Linked DNA regions of Homo sapiens: region 2 is linked to region 1. Evidence: fine-mapped expression QTL. Tissue or cell type: whole blood. Region 1 holds a variant in brackets; the other region holds the start of a gene. All regions are shown on one strand. Distances are from middle to middle.

The links. PIP is the estimated chance that this variant, and not a neighbour inherited with it, causes the effect.
Region 2: it holds the start of ATG7, and the variant in region 1 is fine-mapped to the expression of ATG7 in whole blood (TOPMed, PIP above 0.99).

The regions. Positions count from the first base shown.
Region 1 is chr3:11,553,877-11,556,556 of GRCh38, reverse strand. It overlaps ATG7 (autophagy related 7), which reads right to left. Exons shown (of 21, transcript NM_001349232.2): 21 at 1-1,746. The coding sequence ends at 1,714. It overlaps VGLL4 (vestigial like family member 4), which reads left to right. Exons shown (of 5, transcript NM_001128219.3): 5 at 1-488. Among named protein-coding and RNA genes, the nearest start is that of VGLL4, 89 kb to the left of the region's middle. The variant G/A (reference allele first, on the strand shown) is at 1,629.
Region 2 is chr3:11,270,824-11,273,503 of GRCh38, reverse strand. It overlaps ATG7 (autophagy related 7), which reads right to left and starts at 1,107. Exons shown (of 21, transcript NM_001349232.2): 1 at 1,074-1,107. RefSeq lists enhancers at 322-911, 1,060-1,189, 912-1,503, 1,460-1,509.

The sequences.
Region 1 (2,680 bases):
GAGAACACTGCATCTGCATTCATAGCCACGAGTTTGTTATTGCTACAGGCTACTGAGCGTCGTAACAGGAAAACCACCCACAGCTGACCGGCTCGGTGGAGGACACTCCTGGGACAGGTCTCTTTGTCAGTGAACAAGGGCGTCACTCTGGGAGGGGTCGGCGGTGCTGGCGGCCGGGTCCCTGGTGCACTGACCTATCTGGGATAGGCAGTACCCTGGAGGGGGGCCTGGGGCAGAGGAGGCAGCAGAAAACCAAACATTTCACTGAGAAAGCCCCCTCCCTGCTCTAAGAAGGGGCTCCGTGAAGTTCTTCCCAGAGCCGCGCTGCCTGCAGTGCGCTCTGACCTTCTCTTCATGTGTGTAAATCTGTAATATACCATTCTCTGTGGCCTGTTTTTCCTGGAAGAAGAAAAAAAAAGGTTTGGCAGGCCATCTTTTTTTGTACTTAAAAGTAGCCTTAAGAACAATAATAAAGTGCTCTTAAACCACATAGTGTACGTGTGCAGTTTCAGCGCCAGGCTGGGTGGGCGGACTCGGGCCCTGCACCTGTGCCGGCTGTGTCCCCATGAAGCTCCCATGAGCTGAACGACAGCCACTGGAACTTGGACTGGCTACTTTGGGAGAAGCGAAGCCTCATTTGAAATCTACCCTACTAAATCCTACTGTTGTAAGGGTCAGCTCGACTCAATTTTCACTTTGATTCTGGGCCTAAGACAAAAGCTGAAAGAATAAAATAGCAGGAAAGACGATGCCCTCTACACGGGGGCAGGGTGGTCACAGGTACCTAGGCCATGGCCTCTCCTGGGTTGGGGCCTCACAGCTGCACACACCCAGAATAAAGAGGAAAACCAGCTCTTGCCTGAGTTACCCATGGTAGAGCCGTCTGACCCCTCCCTCGGCTGGGGCAGGAAGGCAGCCCAGGCTCGGCCTTTCTGGGCCTGGCCTGCTCATAAGGGCAGGGAGGAGCCCCATCCAGGCAGCTGCCAGGATCTGCCCCTGGGCTCTTCCCCCCAGCTCAAGGCAGCAGCAGAAACTCCTCTCCCTCAAGCAGGCAGGCAGGCACAGATGCTATGCCCACAGTGGAGGACAGGCTGGGAGGCAGAAAGCCATGTCTGAGCAGCTCACTCAGTCCTTGGTGGAAATCTGGCGTCACTGGGTCATGTGGGCCCTTTAGTCTCGTACCCAGCTCGGCTCTCCTCCTCCTCCCGCTCCACCAGGGCCAGGGTGCAGTGCGCTCACGGGGTCCCACCCTCACCCATGCCCAGGGCCCCCACAGGAGGAGCCTGCGGTGCGGTGGGCAGCACATTCCGGGGATGAGGGTGCCACCTCCCGCAGTGGCTCTGGGCAGGAGCTGGTTGCTCATTTCCCCATTTGGTCTGTGTTGGGTCACCCCCTCAGGGCCAAGGGGAAAGGATCCTGGGGGATGGCTATCAGTCACTGTGACAAGAAATAAAAACTGCATGGAGGACCAAGTCCCAGGTCAATAGCAAGGCCAAGGCCAAGGTTATTATTTAGCTCTGAACTGGTGGTATCTTGAATCCCGAGCAACGCCGAACACTGGCCACTCCTGGGCAGCAGAGGGGGGAATCCCAGACCTCGGGGTATGGAGGAGGGGCCCAGAATCACCA[G/A]GCCTGGGGTCAGCAGTCCTGCTCTGGCGATGGAGAGCTCCTCAGCAGGCGGCCGGGGAGAAGTCAGCCCCACAGCGGGGCCATCTCAGATGGTCTCATCATCGCTCATGTCCCAGATCTGCATGGAGAAGGGGAGAGGCTCAGCCGAGATGTCCCACTGCCCGGTGGGGGGCACACAGATGCTTCAAAACCGCAGCAGTCATGGCAGCTCCCACCTGCAGAACCACTCCCTTGTTTCTGAGGGACTGTCACCCCATTTCTGTACAAGGAAACCAAATCTCAGACTTGCCAAGGCGTCACTAGTGTGTGAACCACCTGGTGGAACCAACAGGGGAGGGCTGGGATTTGCACTGGGGAATGTGCCTCTGCTCACCTCCTGCATGTCCACCTCGGGGGACCGTCCCTGACCCAGCCAGCCTCTGCTCATCCTGGCTTCTGCAGCACTCACCCCCACCCCAAGCCAGCTTGTTCTCCTTGTGGTCCACCTGCCCTCTGGAAGGCAAGCTCCCTGAGGGCAGGAATTCTGGCATGGGCACGTGCTGCCTTGGGAGGCTGCACCCTGGGCACCTGCTCCATGTTCCCTCTAACTGTAGTCCAGCTGCCCACACTCCCAACTCACACTAGAGAGCTGGCTCAAGAGCAAGCCCTCCCCACCAGCCAGGGTGGAGGTGGCCTGGAGCAAAGACAGTGGAGACAGCCAGATCCTGCCACAGTCCCTCAATGCGTGTCCTCCGAGTCTGAGCCTCGCAGTGAACCTGGGGAGCAGGAGGCCCCAACGTGGCTGTGAGGAGAACTGAGGGACCCAGCAAGAGCCACCCTGGCCGACACCCCCATGGGCCCAGGCCCATTCATTCCCTGCAGTCCTTGGTGTCAGCCCCCAGGGAGAGAGCCCAAGGCCAGCACAGCAGGTCCCAGGGCCCCTGGCACCCAGGGCTCCCTGGAGGGCCAGTCCCTGAACCTACGCCTTCAGACTTCCAAATTCCTAGAATTGGTTGCAAAAGGCCACCTCAGTGCTAGCAGAGCTGAGAGAAGGAACAGCATGTTTACACGAG
Region 2 (2,680 bases), 280 kb after region 1:
AAGAGGAAGACAAACTAGCAGCTTTCAATGATGTATAGGGCAATTAAATGCAGGGGTGATTCCAAGAGCCTGAAGGAGGAACAGTGAGCTAAGATTACCGAGTAGCTGCTTTCAGCTCAACCTAAGAGTCAGAACTGGGGGAGGACCAAACAGGAGCAACCAGAAGTAGAAAGCTTTCTGTCACTGAAGAAATCTGGCCAGTGGGCAGAGGTGTCAGAGAAAAAAATCTAAGTAGTCAATGAAAAAGGGAGTCTGGGATCCAGAGGTCCCAAACTGACAGCCACAGATATGACTGGTTACAGTTGAACAGGGTTTTGTAAAAACTGAGTTGCCAATGTTTTTAAACGCCAGAATTACTTGCCAATTTTTAAAAAATGGCATCAGTCGCCAGTGTTTAAAAATCAGGAAACTGCACGCACGTGCACACACACACGGTTTGGCTTGTACTTCTCCAACATCATGTACGTTAGTACTGTACTTATAAAATTAGAAGTTTGACTCTATTTCTGACAAATGTTCTAACACCTATATTTACCTTACCGGATTGATTCTTATTGTGCATTAGTTTCTAACCCTGTAACCAAGGAATCGAGAATCTTCTTTCTCAGAAAGTAAACTTATTTAACCTCCTCACTTAAACAAATGGCGGATTATCATTCCCATTTTGCAGATGGAAAAGCAGCTTAGATGGGGAAGGAACGTGCCAGAGACAGCAAATCCAGACACAGCCAGGCTGGGAATCCAAATGTCCCATCTCCCGTGTTCCAACACTGAAGATTCTGAGCACTGCCTACCAAGAGGACAGGAGGGGCTGACTTAGGAAATCAGCACGAGCTTCCAAGTCAGAAGACCCCGGACTGAACCAGTCTGAGGGGACGCGGCTACAGACGAAGGGCGCCAGCCGGAATCAGTGAGTCCCTGGAGGAGGAAGGACCACCCAGAAACTGGCAGAGGAGGATCCTGAGACTTGCTGTGACCCTCGCCCTCCCTGGCGAGCTCGCCCCTTGACTCCAGGCCTCCAAAACCGGCCCAGCAAGACCCCACTACACCCTCGCCCGCCGCGGCTCACTTACCGCCGCTCAACTTCCGGCAACCACAGCTCTCTCTGAGGCGCGCGCCCCGATGACGCAACGCGGTCCTGCCCGCGCTTGCCACTGGGAAGCGGCGCGCGTGCGCAAAGGAGCAGAGGCATGCCGGGGAAATGCGCCCCTAGCACCGAGCTAAGTGGGAGGAACTTGAGTCGTGAGGAGGGCGGGGCATCAGGGGGCGGTGACGCCCCCGGGGGAAGCGATGGAGAGCGTCTCCCTTACCAGATGTCGGAATGTCTACATTCCCTTCAGGCTTTTAAGAAAGTGCCCACGTTCTCTCTTTTGATTTCAGAGGATGACAGGAATGATCACCATGGTCATTCTCCAGGAGAGGCGGCATCAAACGCAGCACAGGGGCCATCAGGGTGGCAGGTGTGGAGAGCCAGGAGATGAGAATTTTAGTAGGAAAAGGCCAGTGAACGTCGACAGTGACCAACCTGCCTTTTCTAAACCAGCCATCATTCTCACAGCTCCTCACTGTCAGTGAGATAAAGTTATTCCCTCTCAATACTTGGTTAGATACTCTGCGCGTGCAAAGCACTGGACAGGTGTTGAAGATACAGCAGTGATTATGACAAGTTTCTCTGTCTGGCCTGTAAGGCCTTTCACAAATTAACTCTGATATACCACTCTAGACTCATAACAACAAGAGCGATGACTGCTATTAATTAACTAGCCACCATGTTTTCAGGGTTTTACATCTCTAATCCTCACAAGAGTCCTGAAACATATCCCCAAGTTATATATGAAAGAACAGAATCTAAGAAAAGTTAGGTGGCTTGCTGAAAGTTAAAGGGCTTTTGGGCCAGGAACGTAATCTGAAGTTTGTTTGATTCTGGCAAATAAGAAAACAAATCCAGACTAATAAGGATACTTATTAGAAAGGATTACTGCAGGCCCGGCGCGGTGGCTCACGCCTGTAATCACAGCACTTTGGGAGGCCGAGGCGGGCGGATCACGAGGTCAGGAGATCGAGACCATCCCGGCTAAAACGGTGAAACCCCGTCTCTACTAAAAATACAAAAAAATTAGCCGGGCGTGGTGGCGGGCGCCTGTAGTCCCAGCTACTTGGGAGGCTGAGGCAGGAGAATGGCGTGAACCCGGGAGGCGGAGCTTGCAGTGAGCCGAGATCCCACCACTGCACTCCAGCCTGGGCGACAGAGCGAGACTCCGTCTCAAAAAAAAAAAAAAAGAAAGGATTACTGCAAGAAGTGAGAGAGGTGGGAGAGAAGGAACCGTGCAATAGCAGAGGGAGACTATTGCAATAGTGAGATCACTCTGACCAAAACATCCGCAGATGTTTCAATGGTTAGGGAAAAAGAGGGTTCCCCCACCCCCCACCCTCCCCAAAGGCAGGTAAACAAGGCTGGAAACAACCGAATATGGGAAGTGGGATGAAGGGGTGGCTTGATCAGATAGTAGATTAGAGAATGTTTTATCTTGAGGCCAACCTATTCTCAGTAGGGGTTGTGTGTGTCAGTCTCTGAGCCCAAGCTAAGCCATCATATCCCCAGTGACCTGCACGTATACATCCAGATGGCTTGCAGCAACTGAAGATCCGCAGAAGTGAAAATAGCCTTAACTGATGACAT